7 linked regions of the Homo sapiens genome follow. The protein of the gene in region 1 interacts with the protein of each later gene in a pairwise test. Each region holds a gene or a part of one and is shown in the gene's direction. Other genes may lie near its edges. The genes, in order: NOD2, GALNT2, TPM3, GOLGB1, TPM4, ALPI and TPM1.

What was found.
Region 2: the proteins of NOD2 (region 1) and GALNT2 interact in a two-hybrid assay, tested with the Homo sapiens proteins (one study listed by BioGRID and IntAct).
Region 3: the proteins of NOD2 (region 1) and TPM3 interact in a two-hybrid assay, tested with the Homo sapiens proteins (one large-scale study listed by BioGRID).
Region 4: the proteins of NOD2 (region 1) and GOLGB1 interact in a two-hybrid assay, tested with the Homo sapiens proteins (one large-scale study listed by BioGRID and IntAct).
Region 5: the proteins of NOD2 (region 1) and TPM4 interact in a two-hybrid assay, tested with the Homo sapiens proteins (one large-scale study listed by BioGRID).
Region 6: the proteins of NOD2 (region 1) and ALPI interact in a two-hybrid assay, tested with the Homo sapiens proteins (one large-scale study listed by BioGRID).
Region 7: the proteins of NOD2 (region 1) and TPM1 interact in a two-hybrid assay, tested with the Homo sapiens proteins (one large-scale study listed by BioGRID).

Annotation. Positions count from the first base shown.
Region 1 is NC_000016.10:50,724,606-50,728,105, forward strand, and holds part of NOD2 (nucleotide-binding oligomerization domain-containing protein 2), read left to right. Parts: intron 1-883; coding exon 884-967; intron 968-2,809; exon of another isoform or gene 2,810-3,500. UniProt on the Homo sapiens protein: Pattern recognition receptor (PRR) that detects bacterial peptidoglycan fragments and other danger signals and plays an important role in gastrointestinal immunity.
Region 2 is NC_000001.11:230,262,738-230,266,237, forward strand, and holds part of GALNT2 (polypeptide N-acetylgalactosaminyltransferase 2 precursor), read left to right. Parts: intron 1-184; coding exon 185-268; intron 269-2,503; coding exon 2,504-2,630; intron 2,631-3,500. UniProt on the Homo sapiens protein: Catalyzes the initial reaction in O-linked oligosaccharide biosynthesis, the transfer of an N-acetyl-D-galactosamine residue to a serine or threonine residue on the protein receptor.
Region 3 is NC_000001.11:154,161,313-154,164,706, reverse strand, and holds the end of TPM3 (tropomyosin alpha-3 chain), read left to right. Parts: 3' UTR 1-2,894; downstream 2,895-3,394. UniProt on the Homo sapiens protein: Binds to actin filaments in muscle and non-muscle cells. Plays a central role, in association with the troponin complex, in the calcium dependent regulation of vertebrate striated muscle contraction.
Region 4 is NC_000003.12:121,690,742-121,694,241, reverse strand, and holds part of GOLGB1 (golgin subfamily B member 1), read left to right. Parts: coding exon 1-501; intron 502-1,660; coding exon 1,661-3,500. UniProt on the Homo sapiens protein: May participate in forming intercisternal cross-bridges of the Golgi complex.
Region 5 is NC_000019.10:16,100,495-16,103,502, forward strand, and holds the end of TPM4 (tropomyosin alpha-4 chain), read left to right. Parts: intron 1-769; coding exon 770-852; 3' UTR 853-2,508; downstream 2,509-3,008. UniProt on the Homo sapiens protein: Binds to actin filaments in muscle and non-muscle cells. Plays a central role, in association with the troponin complex, in the calcium dependent regulation of vertebrate striated muscle contraction.
Region 6 is NC_000002.12:232,455,024-232,458,952, forward strand, and holds the start of ALPI (intestinal-type alkaline phosphatase precursor), read left to right. Parts: upstream 1-1,129; 5' UTR 1,130-1,176; coding exon 1,177-1,243; intron 1,244-1,325; coding exon 1,326-1,442; intron 1,443-1,556; coding exon 1,557-1,672; intron 1,673-1,875; coding exon 1,876-2,050; intron 2,051-2,126; coding exon 2,127-2,299; intron 2,300-2,541; coding exon 2,542-2,676; intron 2,677-2,771; coding exon 2,772-2,844; intron 2,845-2,974; coding exon 2,975-3,109; intron 3,110-3,193; coding exon 3,194-3,385; intron 3,386-3,608; coding exon 3,609-3,725; intron 3,726-3,836; coding exon 3,837-3,929. UniProt on the Homo sapiens protein: Alkaline phosphatase that can hydrolyze various phosphate compounds.
Region 7 is NC_000015.10:63,059,747-63,063,212, forward strand, and holds part of TPM1 (tropomyosin alpha-1 chain), read left to right. Parts: intron 1-1,122; coding exon 1,123-1,193; intron 1,194-1,451; coding exon of another isoform or gene 1,452-1,527; intron 1,528-1,966; coding exon 1,967-2,042; intron 2,043-2,468; coding exon 2,469-2,531; intron 2,532-2,829; coding exon 2,830-2,899; coding exon of another isoform or gene 2,900-3,063; exon of another isoform or gene 3,064-3,466. UniProt on the Homo sapiens protein: Binds to actin filaments in muscle and non-muscle cells. Plays a central role, in association with the troponin complex, in the calcium dependent regulation of vertebrate striated muscle contraction.

The DNA of each region.
Region 1 (3,500 bases):
ATCAGCTGGTAGACTGTGACTGACTGAAGCCTGGCTGCTGTGATTGGCTAAGACTTAGCTGTTTGTTATAAGGATATGTTGTTAGGTTGCAGTTTGCTACATAGGAACTCAAAGTACAGAGGCAGTCTCAGGCCAAATTTAGTTTAACTATATGTTAAGCTGCAGGTGACAGAATACCTCCATCTATAGAGGTTTAAACAAGGAAAGGGTTTATTTTTTCCTGTATAGGCAGCTGGATGTAGGCAGTGTAGGGTTTGTACAGTGGCTACAAGAGGCCAGGAGGGGTCTCAGCTCTGTCTCATTCTCTTCCTGTTCCATCATTCTTAGCCTGTGACTTCATTCACATGGTTGGTTGTCTCATGATCACAGGATGGCTGCTCCAGGTGCAGCACTACTTCTGTATTCCCGGATTCGATCTATATACCCAGGAAAGCCATCTGGGTTCTCTCCTTTAAAAAGCATTCCTGGAAGCCCCACCTGTCGACTTCCCCTTATGTATCAACCATGTGTATGTCACTTGACCAACCCACTTGTATGTTGTTTGACCAGCCCTGGCTGCAATGGAGAGTGGGAAATACAGTTTTTTCACCAAGTGCATGGCTGTCCAAATGAAATGAGACTTCCATTAATAAGGAAGAAAGGAAAGATGGAGATCAGGAAGCTGGGGGATCAGGGAACTTATTACATTGAGAGCCCTTGGAGTGAATTCTCTTGCAAATATGTCCCTGGAATTGAGAATCCCCACAACGTACTTTATCTGTTCTTTCTTTATCCATGAGTTTGGGTTTTCAGATGTTGGATTTCCTATATGGGGGGCATGTGAGTTCATCATCTTCCATAATCAATGTTGTATCAACTGGATTTTCTCTCTTCTTCTCACCAGCCTGGAGGAGAACCATCTCCAGGATGAAGGTGTATGTTCTCTCGCAGAAGGACTGAAGAAAAATTCAAGTTTGAAAATCCTGAAGTAAGGAACCCATAAGCAGGAAACAGGACAATAATTGCTGGCCTTTGGAAGGGGCATTTCTGAATAAGATCTGGGCCGCTCTCCGCTGGGCTAACTCATGTGAGGTGGCCTGGTAGAACAGCTTGCCTTGGTCTAGGTGGACAAGGATTCCAGTGCAAGTTGTTTATCTGGGAGGTGGTCCCAGTAAATGCTGATAGGAGAGTGGTGAAGTGAGATGGGGAAGTGAAGGTAACCAATAAAGGGGAGTTATCAAGCCAGTTATCAATGAGGGAAATTGGAGCTCAGTACTCTGGGGCACTCCTGGAGCCAGTGCAGAACACACATGGTCACCTACCCAACCAATGGGCAAGAAAGCCATGGCATTTATCCACCAACCCTCTGTCCTTCCTATGTTGATGTGCGCTCATGGGGCACTGATTCTCCAGCACTTCCAGCTCACCCTCACCCAGCTGAACATGCTTCTGGGGTCAGGAGAATGGCCTCAGGCAGAGAGTGGAAGGTCTTCTCTGCAAGCAGTGGCTGGGGAGGTGATGTGATGGGGAGTACTGTGGCCTCCTCCAGTGGCTGACTCAGTGGCTTGGGACTTGTGCCACAAAGAGATGGACAGCTCAGGTGAACATGAACCCACCTAGTGACCATCATGGGTTTGTCAGGGTGCTCTCTGAGGCTGATGCCAAAATTCTTATTTCAAGTAGACCTCAGGAACCCCATCAGATGGCTCCTTTTGCTGGAGGAAAGTGGCATCTGCCTAGGCAAATGTGGTCCTAGGAAAACGCTTGCCTTTAGAGACAGACAGACAGACAGCTGCCTCTGTGAGTGCCAGCTTTGCTGCCAGGCTGCTACCCACTCTGGCGACACTCATTTGTGTTGCTTTCACAAGCTAGGAAGTTTCCAAATATTTGGAGAAAACACTTCCACTAATTATTTGGGTGGAAATGGGCTGGGAAGTTGGGGTGAAGCCCGGATGTGTCTGAGCCAGATGCCAGCTTTGCACTGAGGGTCGGCCTTTGGGAATACCAAGCCCATTATCAACCAGGTGTGGATATGGCAGGTTTGTCTTCCCTCCTTGTCACAGCCTTACTCCACTTGACTCCCATGGATGCCAGGCAATGAGGCTGGGGTTGGTCCCATGCCACCCTGTCATCAGCCTTATTTTTCAGCATCCTAAACTATATCATCCCCCACAAAAATTGAACTTCTGATATATCTTTTATAAAAAAGAGAAATGCCTACATCTTTCTTTTCCAGGCTTAGTTTCTGCCAAGAGTTGGTTGAGAGCCCAGGCTTGCTGGGTGCAGTGGCTCACACCTGTAATCCCAGCACTTTGGGAGGCTGAGGCGGGTGGATCACCTGAAGTGGGGAGTTCCATACCAGCCTGACCAACATGGAGAAACCCCATCTCTACTAAAAATACAAAATTAGCCGGGCGTGGTGGCATACACCTGTAATCCCATCTACTCAGGAAGCTGAGGCAGGAGAATCACTTGAACCTGGGAGGTGGAGGTTGCCATGAGCCAAGATCACACCATTGCACCCTAGACTGGACAAGAGAGAAACTTCCATCTCAAAAAAAAAAAAAAAAAGGATGAGAAAAATAATAATTTAAAAAAAAGAGTCCAGGCTCTGGAACCAGACAGCCTGGGTCTTACCCCTGCTCCACCATTACCAGCCAGTTCTTCTTGGATGAGTGCCTCAGTTGCCTCAAGTGTAAATGGAGATAATGGCTGGACCTTCATTATAGGCCATGAGCATTCACTGAGAGAATGTAGCTAACAAAAGTGAGTTGTAGGTTGGAGCAAAAGTAATTGTGGTTTCAGACCATGAACTTTAAATTATTATAACTAGGCTAAAATACATCTTTATTAATCAAAATAGGAACCATTAAAATCAACACATTTTTGCCAATAAGAAATAAGTTTGTTTATTCCTGTAGCATAAAAATTCATGCTTCGGGATTCAACAAACTCTTGGAAAGCATTTTCTGCATCCTCCTGGTTGTGGAAGCATTTTTCCTGCAGAAAGTTGTCAAGATTCTTGAAGAAATGGTAGTCAGTTGGCTAGAGGTCAGGTAAATATGGCGGATGAGGCAAAACTTCATAGTCCAATTCATTCAACTTTTGAAGCTTTGGTTGTGTGACATGCAGTCGGGTGTTGTCGTGGAGAATTGGACCCTTTCTGTTGACGAATGCCGGCTGCAGGTGTTGCAGTTTTCAGTGCATCTCATTGACTTGCCGAGCATACTTCTCATATGTAATGGTTTCGCAGGGATTCAGAAAGCTGTAGGGGATCAGACTAGCAGCAGACCACCAGTGACCATGACCTTTTTTTTTTGGTGCGAATTTGCCTTTGGGAAGTGCTTTGGAGCTTCTTCTCGGTCCAACCACTGAGCTAGTCATTGCCAGTTGTATAAAATCCACTTTTCATCGCACGTCACAATCAGATCAAGAAATGGTTCGCTGTTGTTGTGTAGAATAAGAGAAGATGACACTTCAAAATGACGATTTTCTTGGTTTTCACTCAGCTCATGAGGCAC
Region 2 (3,500 bases), on another chromosome or scaffold:
CCCCAGCGTTGAATTCAGCTACCCAGGTGCCAAGGCGGGAAGGGGTTGTGGGCACAGGAGCATGGGCAGTCCACACCACACCACCTGCCCCAACCCTGTTCTCCTCAGCAGATTTTCAAGTTTGATGTAGAAAGCCCATCTATTCTTAAAATTTATAAAGGAATCTTATTTCCCTCTTCTCCAGTATTCAGAGCAGATTGGAGCTTAGGAAGAAACTCAGCTGCAAGCCTTTCAAATGGTACCTTGAAAATGTCTATCCAGAGTTAAGGTAAGTCCCCAGGGATCTGGGGTTTCACTTTGTAAGGGCTTAGAAGCCAGTAAGGCCATAGAAGCAGCAGAGGGGAAATGGAGGTGGGGCTGCAGGCATGAGATTGGGCACCTGGGCCCCAGTGAGAGCCTGTGGTCTCACTCCATGGTGTGGAGCTGAGAATCTGCTCCCAAGTTGGCCTGCTGCTGTCTCTGTCCTGCAGAGCTGCCCTCCCATGCTTCGGAGTCCCAGAGGCAGTCCCCCGGGCCTCACCTTGTTTTTGGCTTGTTCTCCATTGGCAAGGTGATGGGCTGGGTGACCTGAAGGACTGGTGTCTGACAGGCTCTTCGAGTGACCAGGAGCAGTCCCCAGCCTCCGCAAGCATGCAGTGTCTGCAGCCAGCCCTCGATCCCCCCGCCAGGCGCCTTTGCATGCCTCCGATCTGCTGCGCTCACCCTTGCTGCTCCTGTGGGCCAGCAGATAACAGCCCCCACGAGGCTCCCTCCTCCCAGCTAGGTTAATCACATGTGAAACGGAAGTAATAATGCTGCTGCCCCACGTCCCTCCGGAGGATTCATGGCAGAAACACCTTTCTGAGCATTATTTCCACACCCAGCCTCTTGTTTTAAGCGAATACGAGCTCCCCATCTGGAGGGACCTGCTGATAACCTCGTGAGAAGACCTATAGATCCGCTGGGGTGGAGGAGCCATCTGCACTTCATCTTCTTAAAGGGACTGTCAGGCAGGTCGTGCCTTAATGCGGCACATTCCTTATTCTAAATATTCCCAGAGCATTTTACAGCGGCTCACATATCTCCAGCACAGTGCCTGCGAACGCAAGACTTGCCACCATTATCTTTCCGCTAACAGCTCCTTCAGAGCCCTTGTCACGGAGATTTGTTGGACAGTTAGGTAATGCGGCCTCTCTCTGTTGCTCCTGTTCGCTCACTTGGCTCTTTGGAACCGTTTCCTCTGCTTTTCAAGTAACATGCCAGGCGCCAGGTGGCCCATGCCCCCTAGGAGGAGAACAGGAGAGAACACAGCGTCCTTCTCCCTCGGATCCCTGCCGTGCAGGACAGCTTTTGCTGGGGATTGAGAGCACCAGATGGTCACCAGCGATGGTCACCTGCAGCGGCAAGGGTGCACTGGTCACAGTTGCTGGTTGCAGGGCCCTGGTCTTCTTCCTGCCAGCTCTGTCCTCTCGGCCATGTGCACTCAACCCAAAAGAACCCATTCTGCCTCTGTGTCTGGCCCCAGAATATGATGTCTACACCTCCTGCCTGGTGTCCCTATACAACAGATTCTTGACTGTGGGCACTAAGGCGGCTGCTCATCAACTCTCCGTCAGCCAAAGAGGGGCTTCAATTCAGTGGATTTTAACCCAACCATGCCACTCACTTTGCTTTTTCAGTCACAGTTGACTGCCATTTCTCACAGAGGTCACCCATGGTTTGTAGTGACACTGGGCCCCGCACCCACTGAAGACCACATCTGAGGCACTGAGCACCATCCTGGCTGGCAAATCTGCTTCCCCTGTCTGTGGGGGGTGAGGGAGACATCAGCCTCGTGTTTTGTGTCTGTAATATCACCGCCGTTTACTGAGTGCCTCCTACGAGCCAGGCACTGGGCCGTGTGCTTTACACGAAATGTTCTATGTAACACTTGCAGCAGATCTGGGTAGCCCATAGCCTACCAAAGGGCAAATCGAGCTTCAGAGAAAGTGAGTCTTGCCTGAAAGCCAGCACCTGGCAGAGGTGGGCTGAGGTTTGGATCTGGTTCTGAAGCACGTTGTTCTTCCCCGTGGCTGTGGCTTTGTTCACATTAGACCACCTGACAAGTCTGCCCACCTTTCCCGTCTTTACTGGATAAAGGTCAGATCCTAAGTGTATTGGAAAGTTCAAGGCAACAGGATCTGACCACATTGATTTTCTAAATGACTTCCAATAAGACTAACATTGAAGAGTATCAGGAGCTTTTCCTTCCTTTCCAAAAAAAAAAAAAAAAAAAAATGACCTGATATAGAATATAAAGAATACTTCTGCAACATACAGTCTTAAAGTGTTGGAAGTCCAGAGCCTGGGAGAAATGCCGTGTCCCTGACACACACTACCTGTGGTAGGAAGAGGCACGATGCCTAGTCACTGGGTCTTTCTCTCGTTCCTGTCACCTGTCATGAGGCCACTGAGCAAAGGGGCTGGTGGACGGGAGCTGGTGGTCATGTGCAGTGAAGCAGGTGATTCTCACGTTGTTTTTCAGGGTTCCAGACCATCAGGATATAGCTTTTGGGGCCTTGCAGCAGGGAACTAACTGCCTCGACACTTTGGGACACTTTGCTGATGGTGTGGTTGGAGTTTATGAATGTCACAATGCTGGGGGAAACCAGGTATGTGCATGGGGAAGCCAGGTCACCTGCAGGCCCAGAGAGAGCAGGAGTTGGGGGGGTCCTGATGTTAGAAGTCCCAGCTGCCACCTTTCTCCTGGGATGGGTGATGTCTATGAGGAAGCACCTGGCTCCTGCTGGCCACAGCCTCTTTGGCAGCCAGCACCAGGGCCAGATAGAATGTCACACACTTTGGTGCATCAGCTCTGTCATCAGCTTCGGACCAGGCTCTGCTGCAGCGGCAAGGGTGCACTGGTCACAGTTGCTGGTTGCAGGGCCCTGGTCTTCCTGCCAGCTCTGTCCTCTCGGCCATGTGCACTCAACCGCAAAGCACCCATTCTGCCTCTGCGTCTGGCCCCAGAATATGATGTCTACACCTCCTGCCTGGTATGCCTATACAACAGATTCTTAACTGTGGGCACTAAGGCGGCTGCTAGTTATAGCCCCTGCCTGTTAGATAATAGCTTAAGATAGAAGATACTCAGTATTAATTGCTTCCATTGCACACATACACACCTTTTCTGAGAGGCATAAAAATGCACAACCGCCAGGCGCCGTGGCGCACGCCTGTAATCCCAACACTTTGGGAGGCTGTGGTGGGTGGATCACCTAAGGTCAGGAGTTCAAGACCAGCCTGGCCGACATGGTGAAACCCATCTCTGCTAAAAATAAAAAAAAAATTAGCCAAGCGTGGTGGCGGGCACCTGTAATCCCAGCTACCCGAGAGGCTGAGGCAGGAGAATTGCCTGAACCCGGGAGGCAGAGGTTGCTGTGAGCTGAGATCACACCATTGCATTCCAGCCCAGGCTACAAGAGCAAAGCTCTGTCTCAAAAAACAAACAAACAAACAAACAGAAAAACCCACTACCTTCT
Region 3 (3,394 bases), on another chromosome or scaffold:
GAAATCAAAGTTTTGATGTGTTAGTGTTTTTTCCTAATCACATTAAAGTAACTATAGCAGTGAATACACCACACTTTGGAAAAAATTGGGTTAGGTTAATTTAGTTTTCTAGGAGAGAATAATCAGGGTCTGAGCTAGAGTAGTGGCAGGAGAGATAGCACTAAATAAAGACAGGCATTGTGAAAGGCCTGGCCACTTGATGTGAGGAGGAAAGACAAGGATGACTGGTTTTTAGAGTAGGAGAATTAGCCGGGTGCAGTGGCTCATGCCTGTAATCCCTGCACTTTAGGAGGCTGAGGTGAGAGGATTTCTTGAATCCAGGAGTTCGAGACCAGCCTGGCAATAAAGTGAGAACCTGTCTCTACAAAATATAAAAACTTAGCCAAACATGGTGGTGCGTGCCTGCAGTCCTATCTACTTGGAGGGCCGAAGCCAGAGGATCCTTTGAGCCCAGGAGTCTGAGGCTGCAGCAAGCTGTGATCACACTGCTGCACTCCATCCTGGGTGGCAGAATGAGACCCCCCCCAAAAAAAGAGTAGGAAAGTGGTGGGGTTAAAGATGTAGGGAGATCATGTTGTCCTGGTTTGGGGAGCTGGGGGAAGGGAAAGAAGATACGGCTGACAATCTGGCAGGTATCTGGGTGAAAACAAAATTCTAGGGCGTGAGGCAGAGAGGTTGACATAAGAGAGTTGGGAATCCATATGGGGTACAGGTAGTTTATGCCATGGAGGTAAATTAGAACCATGAAGGACAATTGCAAATACAAAAAAAAGAGGCCAGGCACGGTGGCTCACGCCTGTAATCCCAGCACTTTGGGAGGCCGAGGTGGGCGGATCACGAGGTCAGGAGATCAAGACCATCCTGGCTGACACGTTGAAACCCCGTCTCTACTAAAAATACAAAAAATTAGCTGGGCGTGGTTGCGGGCACCTGTAGTCCCAACTACTTGGGAGGCTGAGGCAGGAGAATGGCGTGAACCCGGGAGGCGGAGCTTGTAGTGAGCTGAGATTGTGCCACGGCATTCCAGCCTGGGTGACAGAGCAAGACTCTGTCTCAAAAAAAAATTAAACAATGAGGAAAACGTTATGTAAGAGGAGGAACCAAATGGAACTGATTGGAGGGAAAGAAGACGGTTGAGTAGTTCTTTAAAAAGTTCCGGGTTGGATGCTTTCTAGTGGTTTTTCAACAGAGAGGCTAAGAAGGAAGATAACTGAAAATGGGACATGCATTGATACTTTAGTAATTTGAGGGTACATTTTGAGTGTTAAGAAGTGAAGAGGAGGAGTCATTTTCAGGGGCAAAAGAGTGTATTGGTAGGAAGATTATATAGGCAATATAATTTACTTTAGAGCAGGGCTTTCCAACAGAACTTTTGGTAATGATGTCTAGTACATTAGCCACATGTGGCAGTCAAGCACTCAAAACATGGCTAGTGTGGCTGAGGGGCTAAAATTTAATTGTATTTCATTGTAGTTCATTTAAATTTGGCTACCTGTGGCTAGTGGCTATTATATTGGACAATGCATTTCTAAATATTCAGATCCTGGGCAGAAGTTGGCTTTGACATGAAGAAAGACTTCTTAGAAAGGAAGGAAGTAGACCGGGCATGGTGGCTCATGCCTGTAATCCCAACACTTTGGGAAGCCGAGGCAGGTGGATCACAAGGTCAAGAGATCAAGACCATCCTGGCCAACGTGGTGAAAACCTGTCTCTACTAAAAATACAAAAATTAGCTGGACATGGTGGCACATGCCTGTAGTCCCAACTACTCGAGAGGCTGAGGCAGGAGAGAAAAAAAAGAAGGAAATAAGAGGGAGATTGGGAGAAAAGTAAGGTGTTATAGCTCTGATCTGTGGTATCTCCTGTTTTCCTTGCGGTATGACTAGTGTGAGCCAAGGATAGAGACCAACAAACTGGGGTACCAAAGTGGACAATGAAGTACTATGTAATTAGTGCTAATGCTAAATTCATTCCTTTGTTTAAGGCTTAATATCCTTGCAGAAGCCATCCTGTGTTACTTGAGCCTGGACTAGTATTGGGGTGAAGTCAAGCATCAGAGTAAAACATTTGTCCCCTTAATGTTACCCCCTCTTAATTTCTAAGAACCACAGGCCCATTTTGCCCTTCCTTGTTACCATCATTGAGATAAGGAATAAGATGTAGTAACCCCAAGTTATCTGATAGGTACAACTGACCTATTCTGTTTGGCAGCTTTATCTTAGACCTATTCTGTTTGGCAGCTTTATCTTAGCCCCAACCAAATCTCTTCCTTTCACATGGTGTTGGTTGAATACTATCCAACTCCATGGGGTTGGTTTGTGTTTTTTTTTTTTTTTTTTTTTGAGACGGAGTCTTGCTCTGTTGCCCAGGCTGGAGTGCGGTGGTGTGATCTTGGCTCACTGCAAGCTCCGCCTCCTGGGTTTAAGTGATCCTCCTGCCTCAGCCTCCTGAATAGCTGGGATTACAGGCACGTGCAACCAAGCCCGGCTAATTTTTGTGTTTTTAGTAGAGACTAGGTTTCAACATGTTAGGCTGATCTCAAACTCCTGACCTCGTGATCTGCCCGCCTCGGCCTTCCAAAGTGCTGGGGTTACAGACTTGAGCCACTGCACCTGGCCATGGGGTTGTTTCTTAATTAGATATAGCTGAAAAGAACGCTAGACCAAATAGGTTCTCTGCCTTGCCTTTTCGTTTGTTTTGTTTTAGCTATTATCAGGGAACCAAAAACTTTAAGGAGCTAGTACTGGTCTTAATTTTTAATAACTAGAGATAGCAGAGTTAGAAACTAAGTTCAAAGTGAGAGAACAGCTGCATTTGTCTTTCTGACCTCATGCAATTCCTAGGAAACTCTGTGTTCTGTGATTTAGTCAGGCAATAAAATGCTCTCACTCCTTCTCTGTCTCTTTATTTCTTCCCTAAATGGAAAAGAATTGACCAGGCTGCTTTGAGGGATAAAGATCCTGATAACGCGGCTGGGTGCGGTGGCTCATGCCTGTAATCCCAGCACTTTGGGAGGCGGGCAGATCACCTGAGGTCAGGAGTTCAAGACCAGCCTGGCCAATATGGTGAAACCCCATCTCTACTAAAAAAAAAAAATGCAAAAATTACCTGGGCGTGGTGGTGGGTGCCTGTAATCCCAGCTACTCAGGAGGCTGAGGCGAGAGAATCGCTTGAACCTGGGAGGTGGAGGTTGCAGTGAACCAAAATCGTACCATTGCACTCCAACCTGGGCAACAAGAGTGAAACTCAAAAAAAAAAAAAAAAAAAAAGGATCCTGATAACATCCTTCTTTCCCAAGTGAGAATCACACAAACTAACTTGGTTATAGGTATTATCTAAATTCAGGCTGTTCACGAGATCTATATGTAATGTAACATCACAGGAAATTTGAGAG
Region 4 (3,500 bases), on another chromosome or scaffold:
TGAAGCAGCAAGGGTCCTAGCAGACAATCTCAAGTTGAAAAAGGAACTTCAGTCAAATAAAGAATCAGTTAAAAGCCAGATGAAACAAAAGGATGAAGATCTTGAGCGAAGACTGGAACAGGCAGAAGAGAAGCACCTGAAAGAGAAGAAGAATATGCAAGAGAAACTGGATGCTTTGCGCAGAGAAAAAGTCCACTTGGAAGAGACAATTGGAGAGATTCAGGTTACTTTGAACAAGAAAGACAAGGAAGTTCAGCAACTTCAGGAAAACTTGGACAGTACTGTGACCCAGCTTGCAGCCTTTACTAAGAGCATGTCTTCCCTCCAGGATGATCGTGACAGGGTGATAGATGAAGCTAAGAAATGGGAGAGGAAGTTTAGTGATGCGATTCAAAGCAAAGAAGAAGAAATTAGACTCAAAGAAGATAATTGCAGTGTTCTAAAGGATCAACTTAGACAGATGTCCATCCATATGGAAGAATTAAAGATTAACATTTCCAGGTAAATGAGTAGTGAATTTTTCCTCCTCCAGAGGTAACTTCAAGCAAAGAAAGTCTCTAAACTATTTCTGTTTCCTTTTAGACAATGGGACTAATTTTGGCATAAATGTCCATGGAAGATATATTCTCTCTCACTTCTGACTTTTTTTTGGCAAACAACAATCCTGCTACAACTGCATGAACATGAAAAGTTCGCATCTTCTCTTCCCATCTTTCTATTGAGAGATTTCTGTACTTCTGTTTTGTTTTGTTTAAGATGGAGTCTTGCTCTTGTCACCCAGGCTGGAATGCAATGGCACGATTTTGGCTCACTGCAACCTCTGCCTCCTGGGTTCAAGCAATTCTCCTGCCTCAGCCTCCCGAGTAGCTGGGATTACAGGAGCCTACCAACACGCCCAGCTAATTTTTTGTATTTTTAGTAGAGAGGGGGTTTCACCATGTTGGCCAGGCTGGTCTCGAACTCCTGACCTCAGGTGATCCACCCACCTCGGCCTCCCAAAGTGCTGGGATTACAGGCATGAGCCATTGCACCTGGCCTCTGTATTTCTTTTCATTTCCATTTCAACTACTCTTGCCTGGATTTTTACCACAGTACTCTCAAATTAATTGTCTAGTCTCGTCTTTTCTTCTTCCTTTAGTCCACATTAATTCATACTGCATATACCTCTTAGAGTTATTTTTTCTCAAATTTCAATTTTCTGTCACTTTTTAATCTATAGAACTAATAATGTCTCTCATCCTTTGTATTCCTTACTTCCAATAGGACCCTTCTGTTCTAAAACAGATTTTCTCACTGTCTTTCATATCAAGATTATCCCTTAGAGAAGCCAAACGTTAGCTTGTCTGGAGCAAAGTAGAATAAAATAGGAGAAAATGTTACTTTTCAGTGTTGAAAACCATGTCACTAAAATAAGTGACATATTTTGGAGTTTATGACTTAAATATATGAACCCTTAAGTATGATATACCTTTAATACATAGCACTCAGTAGATAAACATGTAGGTGCAGAGAATTAATACCTCTTCAGTAAAATATTTAACACCTGTTATGAATGTTAATTCATTTGTAAATCTATTGAGTACATGTTATAGTATTTGTTCCTTGGGAAACACAGTTTTTTTCTTGAAATCTGTAACTAATGACCTTCTCTCTGTTTCAGGCTTGAACATGACAAGCAGATTTGGGAGTCCAAGGCCCAGACAGAGGTCCAGCTTCAGCAGAAGGTCTGTGATACTCTACAGGGGGAAAACAAAGAACTTTTGTCCCAGCTAGAAGAGACACGCCACCTATACCACAGTTCTCAGAATGAATTAGCTAAGTTGGAATCAGAACTTAAGAGTCTCAAAGACCAGTTGACTGATTTAAGTAACTCTTTAGAAAAATGTAAGGAACAAAAAGGAAACTTGGAAGGGATCATAAGGCAGCAAGAGGCTGATATTCAAAATTCTAAGTTCAGTTATGAACAACTGGAGACTGATCTTCAGGCCTCCAGAGAACTGACCAGTAGGCTGCATGAAGAAATAAATATGAAAGAGCAAAAGATTATAAGCCTGCTTTCTGGCAAGGAAGAGGCAATCCAAGTAGCTATTGCTGAACTGCGTCAGCAACATGATAAAGAAATTAAAGAGCTGGAAAACCTGCTGTCCCAGGAGGAAGAGGAGAATATTGTTTTAGAAGAGGAGAACAAAAAGGCTGTTGATAAAACCAATCAGCTTATGGAAACACTGAAAACCATCAAAAAGGAAAACATTCAGCAAAAGGCACAGTTGGATTCCTTTGTTAAATCCATGTCTTCTCTCCAAAATGATCGAGACCGCATAGTGGGTGACTATCAACAGCTGGAAGAGCGACATCTCTCTATAATCTTGGAAAAAGACCAACTCATCCAAGAGGCTGCTGCAGAGAATAATAAGCTTAAAGAAGAAATACGAGGCTTGAGAAGTCATATGGATGATCTCAATTCTGAGAATGCCAAGCTAGATGCAGAACTGATCCAATATAGAGAAGACCTGAACCAAGTGATAACAATAAAGGACAGCCAACAAAAGCAGCTTCTTGAAGTTCAACTTCAGCAAAATAAGGAGCTGGAAAATAAATATGCTAAATTAGAAGAAAAGCTGAAGGAATCTGAGGAAGCAAATGAGGATCTGCGGAGGTCCTTTAATGCCCTACAAGAAGAGAAACAAGATTTATCTAAAGAGATTGAGAGTTTGAAAGTATCTATATCCCAGCTAACAAGACAAGTAACAGCCTTGCAAGAAGAAGGTACTTTAGGACTCTATCATGCCCAGTTAAAAGTAAAAGAAGAAGAGGTACACAGGTTAAGTGCTTTGTTTTCCTCCTCTCAAAAGAGAATTGCAGAACTGGAAGAAGAATTGGTTTGTGTTCAAAAGGAAGCTGCCAAGAAGGTAGGTGAAATTGAAGATAAACTGAAGAAAGAATTAAAGCATCTTCATCATGATGCAGGGATAATGAGAAATGAAACTGAAACAGCAGAAGAGAGAGTGGCAGAGCTAGCAAGAGATTTGGTGGAGATGGAACAGAAATTACTCATGGTCACCAAAGAAAATAAAGGTCTCACAGCACAAATTCAGTCTTTTGGAAGGTCTATGAGTTCCTTGCAAAATAGTAGAGATCATGCCAATGAGGAACTTGATGAACTGAAAAGGAAATATGATGCCAGTCTGAAGGAATTGGCACAGTTGAAAGAACAGGGACTCTTAAACAGAGAGAGAGATGCTCTTCTTTCTGAAACCGCCTTTTCAATGAACTCCACTGAGGAGAATAGCTTGTCTCACCTTGAGAAACTTAACCAACAGCTCCTATCCAAAGATGAGCAATTGCTTCACTTGTCCTCACAACTAGAAGATTCTTATAACCAAGTGCAGTCCTTTTCCAAGGCTATGGCCAGTCTGCAGAATGAGAGAGATCACCTGTGGAATGAGCTGGAGAAATTTCGAAAGTCAGAGGAAGGGAAGCAGAGGTCTGCAGCTCAGCCT
Region 5 (3,008 bases), on another chromosome or scaffold:
ATTCTGTGATGTTCTGCTGTAATTAAAAATACAAAGTACTGGACAGGCATGGTGGCTATAACCCACCTGTATTCCCAGCACTTTGGGAGGCTGAGCAGATGGGTTCCTTGAGCCCAGGAGCTCAAGACCAGCCTGGGTAACATGGTGAGACCCTGTCTCTAGAAAAAATGCAAAAATTGGCCAGGTGGTGGCATGCACCTGCAGTCCCAGCTATGCGGGAGGCTGAGGTGGGAGGATCACCTGAGCCCAGGGAGGTCAAGGCTACGGTGATTCGTGATTACGCCACTGCACTTCAGCCTGGACAACAGAGTGAGACCCTGTCTCAAAAAAAAAGTACTTTCTCTCTTGTGACTTTCACCCTGGCAGTTTCAGGTTTAGAAATCTTTGGGGGGGTGCTGGGCATGGTGGCTCACACCTGTAATCCCAGCACTTTAGGAGGCCAAGGTGGGTGGATCACTTGAGGTCAAGAGCTCGAGACCAGCCTGGCTAACATGGTGAAACCCCATCTCTACTAAAAATACAAAAATTAGCCGGGTGGTGGTGGCACGCGTCTGTAATCCCAGCTACTCGGGAGGCTGAGGCAGGAGAATTGCTTGAGCCTGGCAGGTGAAGGTTGCAGTGAGCCAAGATCGCGCCACTGCACTCCAGCCTGGGTGACAGAATGAGACCCTGTCTCAAGAAGAAGAAAAAAAAACAAATCTTTTTTTTTCTTTCATTTAACAAAGACGCTTATTAATTTATCTTTCCCCATACTCTTAATCCTCACCAGAGAAACTTGCCCAGGCCAAAGAAGAGAACGTGGGCTTACATCAGACACTGGATCAGACACTAAACGAACTTAACTGTATATAAGCAAAACAGAAGAGTCTTGTTCCAACAGAAACTCTGGAGCTCCGTGGGTCTTTCTCTTCTCTTGTAAGAAGTTCCTTTTGTTATTGCCATCTTCGCTTTGCTGGAAATGTCAAGCAAATTATGAATACATGACCAAATATTTTGTATCGGAGAAGCTTTGAGCACCAGTTAAATCTCATTCCTTCCCTTTTTTTTTCAAATGGCACCAGCTTTTTCAGCTCTCTTATTTTTTCCTTAAGTAGCATTTATTCCTAAGGTAGGCAGGGTATTTCCTAGTAAGCATACTTTCTTAAGACGGAGGCCATTTGGTTCCTGGGAGAATAGGCAGCCCCACACTTTGAAGAATACAGACCCCAGTATCTAGTCGTGGATATAATTAAAACGCTGAAGACCATAACCTTTTGGGTCAACTGTTGGTCAAACTATAGGAGAGACCAGGGACCATCACATGGGTAGGGATTTTCCATCCAGAGCCAATAAAAGGACTGGTGGGGGCCGGGGGTGGCTATTGTGGGAAGTCATAACCCACAGATAGATCAACCTAAGAATCCTGGCCCTTCTCCACTCTCCACCATGCAGGACAAACATCTTCTCAAGCAGTCAACGTAGAATGCTTGGGAAATAGTCATAATTACCCACATATAGTAATTAATAGATGGTAATTAATTGATCCTTGATGTGATGTTCTTTTGCATATTTCCTTCATTCTAAAGTTGTTCCCTGGCCGGGAGCGTTGGCTTTCGCCTGTAATCCCAACACTTTGGGAGGCCAGGACAGATCACTTGAGGTCAGGAGTTCGAGACCAGCCCAGCCAACATGGCGAAACCATGTCTCTACTAAAAATACAAAAATTATGGTGACGCCTGCCTGTAGTCCCAGCTACTCGGGAGGCTGAGGCAGGAGGATCGCTTGAACCCAGGAAGTGGAGACTGCAGTGAGCCGATATCGCACCACAGCGCTCCAGCCTGGTCGACAGAGTGAGACTCCATCTCAAGAAAAAATAAAAATAAAGTTGTTCTCTGAAGAGCAAATGTCTCATTCCAGTAATGACCCACTCAGCAGGAATATGGTGGAGTTCAGTCCAATTCAGGTCAGCCATATCCAAAAGACCACAAGTCATTACTAAGTTGAGCAAAAGAGTTTTTATCTATTAGCAGAAAGGGCCTCTCTGGCAGCAGAGATTAAAAACTGGCCCAACTTCATTTCCATACTTCAGGGAACAGCAAATTGAGGATTTACTTATCTAGGACTTGAATTCCTTCTTTGGGACCAAGTTAATAAAAGACCAAGAAACTCCTGATTAAACTGGATAATGAAGGATTCTGTAGACAGGGCTGCACGTATCGGCTTTGTTTGACTTCTCTTTTCTCAGTTAACATCTCAGAGCTAGAACATTCCACATTCCCCAGCAGCGTGTGGGGGCTGACTAAAGTTTACAATTCCAACTAAAAATCACCCTGCTTCTGGCTTATCTGAATCCCTTACCCACCCCACCCCACCACCCTACTCCTATTTATTCAGCACCACACTACCCAGGAAATACACTAGCAAATTGTGCAATGGAATAAAATCCACACTTTAGATTCTTGCAACTGTATCATATGTAATAGTATCACTTTTTCTACATTTTGGTCAAATAAATTTTTACATAAACTACAATTTGCGTGAATTTTAGAATGTGTGGGGGTACACAGAGCATTTTGGTTCAACAAATGTTAAAGGGATGGAAAGGGAAAATAACCAGAGCCAAGAATGTAGACAAGGTTATCTATTTGCTTTATACTGTGACTTCATGATACAAGGATATTACAGTCTCATTGCAGGCGAGAGCACTCAGCCTCGGTCACTCGAAAACTCCTGGCCTTCCTTATCCCCTACGCTGCCTAAGCCAGGCTGTGAAGAATGAGTAGGATTTTAAGAGATAAAAGCAGGGAAAATCATCTCTGTTGCCTGAGTTAGGAAGATCTGCCTAGCTAAGGCTGAGTTACACATACAAAGGAAAGCAGACCAGCATGGGCACCATAGTGAGACCCCGTCTACAAACAATAACAAAAATTTGGCCAGGTACAGTGGCCAAATTACACCTGTAATCCCAGCACTTTGGGAGGCCGAGGCTGGCGGACCGCTTAGGGCCAGGAGTTCAGGACCAGCCTGGC
Region 6 (3,929 bases), on another chromosome or scaffold:
GTTTACCTCCTTCACCATTTTCAAGTGTACAGGGCGGCAGTGTTGAGTACACGCACAGTGTTGTGCAGCTGATCTCCAGAACATTCTCATCCTGCAACCTTGAAGCTCTGTCCCTATTAAACTCCAACTCTAACCCTAACCCCAACCCTAACCCATTGCCTCCTCCCTCAGCCTCAGGCAACCTCCATTCCACTTCTGTCTCTATGTATTTGACTCCCCTCGGGACCTCAGAGAAGTGTGTTCGTGCGTATTTGTTCTTTTGCACTGGTATATTTCACTGAGCATAATGTCCTAAGGTTCATCCATGTTGTAGCAGGTGTCAGGGTCGCCTTTGTTTTCAAGGCTGCGTGATACTCCATTGTATGTGTGCACCCTGTTTGGTTTCTCCATTTCTCTTTTGCTGGACACTTGGGTAGCTTCCAGCTCTTGGCTGCTGTGGATAATGCTGCTGGGAACATGGGTGTGCAGTTATCTGTTCGAGTCCCTAGTTCGCATTCCTTTGGCTACACACTCAGAGTGGGATGTCTGGACTGAAGCAATACTTTTGAACTCAGCCTGAGGTTACCAAACTCTCTGAACTCCTTATCAGAGGCTACACTTCTGGGTGTTCCCCGGGGCCCATGGAAAACAGACTCACCCCAGGCTCCATCTACCTGTGCAAGGGAACAGGGGTCAACCTCAAGTGCACAGGCTGCTCTGGAAGACCCAGCCCAGGTCTGGCTGACCCAGAGCACTGGCCCCTTCCCAGCCTGCGTCCTCAGGACATAGGTGTGGGCACCCATATACACCAAGTGGGTTCTAGGGCAGCCAGGCCACCCAGTGTGCCTCCTTTCACACTCCTCTGGGGCTCGTGACATTACGAGCCCTAACCCGGGCCCTGGCCTAGGCTGTGTGTTTCCAGTCTCACCTCTCTTCACACCTTGAATGAGGTGAATGAAGGAGTGGCAACGCGTCTCCCACAAGACACTGTGAGCCACACCCAGTCCCTTCCCTTCAGCAAGCTTGGCTTCAGGTCACAGGACTGGGCGGGGTCAAGATGGACACCAGGGGTGTGGGGAGGGACGTGGAGCATTTACAGCCAGGGGCAAAGTCCTCCCCTGATTTAAACCCAGGCAGCCTGCGCTGCAGCCGGTTCCTGGTGTCCCCACTTCGCCTCCCTCCTGCTGCCCCCAAGACATGCAGGGGCCCTGGGTGCTGCTGCTGCTGGGCCTGAGGCTACAGCTCTCCCTGGGCGTCATCCCAGGTAATGAGGCTCCCCAAGCTGTTCCACACACAGGGCACCCCCTCAGCCAGGCTGACCTGATCTCTACTCTCCCCCTGGCCAGCTGAGGAGGAGAACCCGGCCTTCTGGAACCGCCAGGCAGCTGAGGCCCTGGATGCTGCCAAGAAGCTGCAGCCCATCCAGAAGGTCGCCAAGAACCTCATCCTCTTCCTGGGCGATGGTGAGTGAGCAAGGCCTGTCCAGCCCCGTAGTCCTCACAGCCCCGGCACCCGGGACCTTCAGTGGTTCCAGGACAACCCTGGGGCCCAGGACTCACACATTTCTGCTCCTTCAGGGTTGGGGGTGCCCACGGTGACAGCCACCAGGATCCTAAAGGGGCAGAAGAATGGCAAACTGGGGCCTGAGACGCCCCTGGCCATGGACCGCTTCCCATACCTGGCTCTGTCCAAGGTAAGGGCTGGGCCACCTCAGAGTCCTCCAAGCAGAGGAGAGGGATCAAGGATATGGAGTGTGGCAGGAGGGAGGGAGCCAGGACAGCTGGGGCCTAAGTTAGGAGCTGGGAGCAGTTAGGATCCCAGAGGACCAGAACCAGGTCCTTGGTTGGGGTCTGGGTGTCCGCCCCGAAGTAGAGCTCAGGGTGTCTCCGTTCGCAGACATACAATGTGGACAGACAGGTGCCAGACAGCGCAGCCACAGCCACGGCCTACCTGTGCGGGGTCAAGGCCAACTTCCAGACCATCGGCTTGAGTGCAGCCGCCCGCTTTAACCAGTGCAACACGACACGCGGCAATGAGGTCATCTCCGTGATGAACCGGGCCAAGCAAGCAGGTGAGCTGGGGCCCGCTGTGGGGTCAGGACCAGGCCCAAGATCTCGGTCACCGATCCTGACCTCTGTCACCCTCAGGAAAGTCAGTAGGAGTGGTGACCACCACACGGGTGCAGCACGCCTCGCCAGCCGGCACCTACGCACACACAGTGAACCGCAACTGGTACTCAGATGCTGACATGCCTGCCTCAGCCCGCCAGGAGGGGTGCCAGGACATCGCCACTCAGCTCATCTCCAACATGGACATTGACGTGCGACCCCCGGGCCAAGGGCTGGGGCTGGGCAGAGGGGAAGGTGGCACAGGCTCAGATCCAGGCAACCAAAAGCCTGATCTGGGTCAGCAGGTTCTGGAGGTGGAGTTGGGGATGTAGAATGTGCAATACAGGCTGGGCCATTCCCACAGCCCTGGGGAGGGGAGCCAGGGGCTATGCATGAGGAGGGGGCACGGGGCCAGCCAGGCCCCCAAACCACCTGCCCCATCCATTGTCCTCAGGTGATCCTTGGCGGAGGCCGCAAGTACATGTTTCCCATGGGGACCCCAGACCCTGAGTACCCAGCTGATGCCAGCCAGAATGGAATCAGGCTGGACGGGAAGAACCTGGTGCAGGAATGGCTGGCAAAGCACCAGGTGATGGGGGCTGGTGGGTGTGGGAGGCACGGCAGGGGGAGGCCAAGTGTGTGGGTCTCAGGGCTGTGGGCTGAAGCCTGGCTCTGTCCCTGCAGGGTGCCTGGTATGTGTGGAACCGCACTGAGCTCATGCAGGCGTCCCTGGACCAGTCTGTGACCCATCTCATGGGTAATGACCCCCTTCCTGCCCTGGCATTCCTCAGACAACCTCAGAGGGTGCCATCCGAGCCTGTGTGCCCATTTGCCAGCACCCTCCCGCTCACAGCCTGCCAATCACCACCAAGCTCCTTGTCCCACAGGCCTCTTTGAGCCCGGAGACACGAAATATGAGATCCACCGAGACCCCACACTGGACCCCTCCCTGATGGAGATGACAGAGGCTGCCCTGCGCCTGCTGAGCAGGAACCCCCGCGGCTTCTACCTCTTTGTGGAGGGTGCGTGGTGGCCCCTGGGGAGTGGAGGAAGGCGGGGCGCGGCAGGGCAGGTTCAAGCATCACCCCCCTCTGGCCTTCCTGCAGGCGGCCGCATCGACCATGGTCATCATGAGGGTGTGGCTTACCAGGCACTCACTGAGGCGGTCATGTTCGACGACGCCATTGAGAGGGCGGGCCAGCTCACCAGCGAGGAGGACACGCTGACCCTCGTCACCGCTGACCACTCCCATGTCTTCTCCTTTGGTGGCTACACCTTGCGAGGGAGCTCCATCTTCGGTAGGCCTGGGGAGAGTGGCAGGTGCTGCTGCATCAATTATGAGGGTGAAGTTTGAGCTTCAGTTTCCTCCTCTGTCAAAAGTGTGCAATGCTGGCACCAGCCCTATAGGGATCTTGTGAGGACCGAGCCCCCGAACAGGCAAAAAGTGGCGGTGCCTGGCACATAGGAGGCACTCCCACAGCTGTGGTCAGCTCAACTACAGGGACCCGCATCTCCCTACAGGGTTGGCCCCCAGCAAGGCTCAGGACAGCAAAGCCTACACGTCCATCCTGTACGGCAATGGCCCGGGCTACGTGTTCAACTCAGGCGTGCGACCAGACGTGAATGAGAGCGAGAGCGGTGAGTGAGGCTGAATGGCCCGTGCAGGGGGACCAGGGTGCCAGGGATGGGGGCATTCGCGGGAGGGGGACGCCGCCTGCCTGCCCTGAAGTGCACTCACCCTCCTACCAGGGAGCCCCGATTACCAGCAGCAGGCGGCGGTGCCCCTGTCGTCCGAGACCCACGGAGGCGAAGACGTGGCGGTGTTTGCGCGCGGCCCGCAGG
Region 7 (3,466 bases), on another chromosome or scaffold:
GTACAGTCTTGATTCCCGAGTGAGGCCATCTGCTTTGTTGGCAGAAATGGGTGGTTTTGAGAAGCAGAGTTCCTTTGTGTCCAGAAAACGGTTCTAATTTTAATCCTGCTAGGGGATCCCAGGCTTTATCAGGAAGCCAATCAGTAGCACTGCGAAGAAGGACCAAAACTCCTCTCCCCCAGCCACAAAGACCCGGACAAAAGATCTTTGGCCGGAAGGGAGAGTTGGGCCCTGTGTCTTGTGAAAGGAGGCTCTCATGCTGTCATGGTGCAAGTCATTTCTTCCCAGAGTGACCTGGCACATCCAGATTGGGCAGCTTAGAGACCACAGACAGTTTCTCAGTGGATTCACAGAGGCCTCTCTCCTCAAGGGTGGTAGAAAACTATTATCAACGCAGGTTTTCAGCAGAATTTGCTCCTGGTCGTGTCCCCATGAAAACAGCCTCCTGTGATAAGAGGCAACTTGATTATTAAGGTTTCTGTTTTTTCCTTATTGGATCACATCGTGGCTATCCTGAAACAGCATTGCCCCTCCTTTTTATTACCATTATTACCTTCAGATTACACTATGCTCACAAGTTTTGATCTGCTTCAGAGGCTCCCTTCCTCTCTCTGGTTCTTCCACTAAATACAAATTTGATTTTGTCAGTTATCTCACCAACTTGTCTCACGTTAGTGTCTCTTGTATTCTTCCACTGCAGTAAGGAGGTAGATGCACAGATCAGCCATCAAATTGATGGAGTTCTTAGGTTTACTTTGTTTTCCTGGCAGCCCCCACCTTTTTAGTACATGTCTCATCCTACTGCTGTTTTTGAGATTGTGAATGTGTATTTTATCCCTCCTTCCACATTTTGGTCTGGCTGCCGGTTCACCTAGGTCAGACTTCCAATTGAGACTGCCCAATCACAGCTAACCATTCTGAGTCAAAGCAGAAGCCTCTGATCTCCTCTCTGCTGGCACTCCTAATAGAGAGTTGCTTCTCTCTGGTCTACCAGAAAGAGGATCATATTGTTTGTAGACAAAACCCTTAGGGCCTGATGGGATCTGATCTCTACCCCCATGCCCTTCTGTTACACAAAGCTTGCAAGACCCATGGTGTGTGTGTTGTGTCTTCCTGCTGCAGGTGGCCCGTAAGCTGGTCATCATTGAGAGCGACCTGGAACGTGCAGAGGAGCGGGCTGAGCTCTCAGAAGGGTAAGCGGGCCCGGCGCCAGGAGGCCACGAATGGGGTGCTGCAGAGCAGTGACTAAACAGCATGACCTTCTGGCAGCTGCACATTACCTGTTTCAGCTCCGGGCTCCTTTTGTGCTCATTTGATGTGGATGAGCCACGAGTATGGAACATGGAGGACTCGTGTGGGGTGTCTTATGTATGAATGCGTGTATCACTGCATGCCTTACCTGCACACTGATTTTGTGAATGGCCTTGTGCATTTCCTGTGTCCACTAACAGCCAAGTCCGACAGCTGGAAGAACAATTAAGAATAATGGATCAGACCTTGAAAGCATTAATGGCTGCAGAGGATAAGGTACTGATGGCTCGTGTGGTTTTTAGGTTTAACTGCAACCCAGACATCTTTCAGCTTCCAATGCCTCCTGGTTCGTTTGGTATAACGACTGCACCTTCACTTCACCCTCTGCTATTTATATCTTGCCTTAAGTGCTTTCCCTTGGTCCTTTATGCTCCTTTGTTTTCCCTTCATAAATGCTCTTTGGGCAGCCAAAAAAGGAGCCAAATTATCGCACTTCAAAGTTGTTGGATTTGGTCACCCTGCCTTCTGCTGTTGCGAGGTTGGGGGGCAGTGTTCCTGGAAAACCTAAACATTTTAATACCTGATGATTTGGCTACTTTAAGGCAGCCCTTCGTCTCTAGGACTCAGTTTTCATTTTTTCCCATCCCTCTCCTTTTTCTCTCCTCCTTCCTTTGGCTTGTCTCCCACCCTTTCTGCCTCTGATCGAAAACATTAGCAAATGTGCCGAGCTTGAAGAAGAATTGAAAACTGTGACGAACAACTTGAAGTCACTGGAGGCTCAGGCTGAGAAGGTAGGCCAGGAGGATGGTGTGGGGGAAAGGCATCTTTTAAGAGCTGCTCAAAAGAGGCCCTGCCAGAAAGCAACACTTACAGTAGACATTTTAGTAAAATGGCAATATTGTGAGGTGATTTTTGGAGAGTTACTAGATAACAAATTCTTTTTTTTAACTAGAGAATTTATTTTATGTTAGGGATATGAGGCATCAATTTAATTTAAACCAAGTGCCAAGTGGATAAGTTATCTTGTTGTTATCCCATGTAAAACAATAGGCAAGAAAGCAGAGAATGTATTGCAGTGTGCCATTTGATATCAGAGGTTCCATTACCTCCTAAGAGATCCTTAACATCTGTTGGCTGAGCTGGCGAGTTCTTTGCATGAGAAGCCATGAGTAGATTGAGCTGCAGCCTGACATCTGGAATGCTCTTTCTAATTACAGTACTCGCAGAAGGAAGACAGATATGAGGAAGAGATCAAGGTCCTTTCCGACAAGCTGAAGGAGGTAATATGAGAGTTGTGGATGAAGCCAACTGGATTTTAAATGAGTTTGTTTTCATGGAACCGGTCAGGGCCTTTTCATTTTAAAGTTCCAATGATCCAAGTCAGGAATATTCAAAGGTCGCCTTGGAGTTTATGTACTGTGCTAACTGCCATTTCTCACAGAGGTGACTGAAACTGACAAGTAGTTTCTGATCCATTTTATAGGTGATGTGCTTCATTTTCATCCTCTAGTTTTCCCTATGTTTGTAGCTACAGGAAACATAAAACTTCCCAACTTTAACTCAAATAAATCATTACAGGCTGAGACTCGGGCTGAGTTTGCGGAGAGGTCAGTAACTAAATTGGAGAAAAGCATTGATGACTTAGAAGGTAAGATCTTAAGTAGTGTTTTTAGTTTAATCCTTATGGTTGAATACCAACCTGGCAAAACAATTTTCCAATTCAAGGGCATCCACATTGATACGCTCCTTTGCACTTGCACATTCTTCCTGTGTGTCCTCTGGGGTTTTTCTCTGTGGCTCTTGAACTCATGAACCTAAGTCTTCTGCTCACGAGGTGACTAGTTAGCCACCAGCCATAGTGGCAAATGCCATCCAGCTTGACTTCATGCTCATTACAAGTGTGGCAGGTTTATTTTTCACTGTGAGTGAGGTGCTTATTGGTGAGAATGACTCTAGTATATTTTATATCTTTAGTGTTACTTCCTAATTAAATTGGGAATGATGTGGTGATTGTGGTCTTGTTTTTAGAAGAACCCATCTTCTTCCAAGTATGAATTCAAAGTAAGGATTTAGGGGTTATTTTAAGTCATATATTATCTTAACAAAATACTTTATATCCTGAAGGAGGAGGGAAAAATTATACTTAAGCATTTCTTCCCTAAGGCACTTAGGTTTTATTTTAGTAATAACCACTCTATCTCACAGATATCCTAAA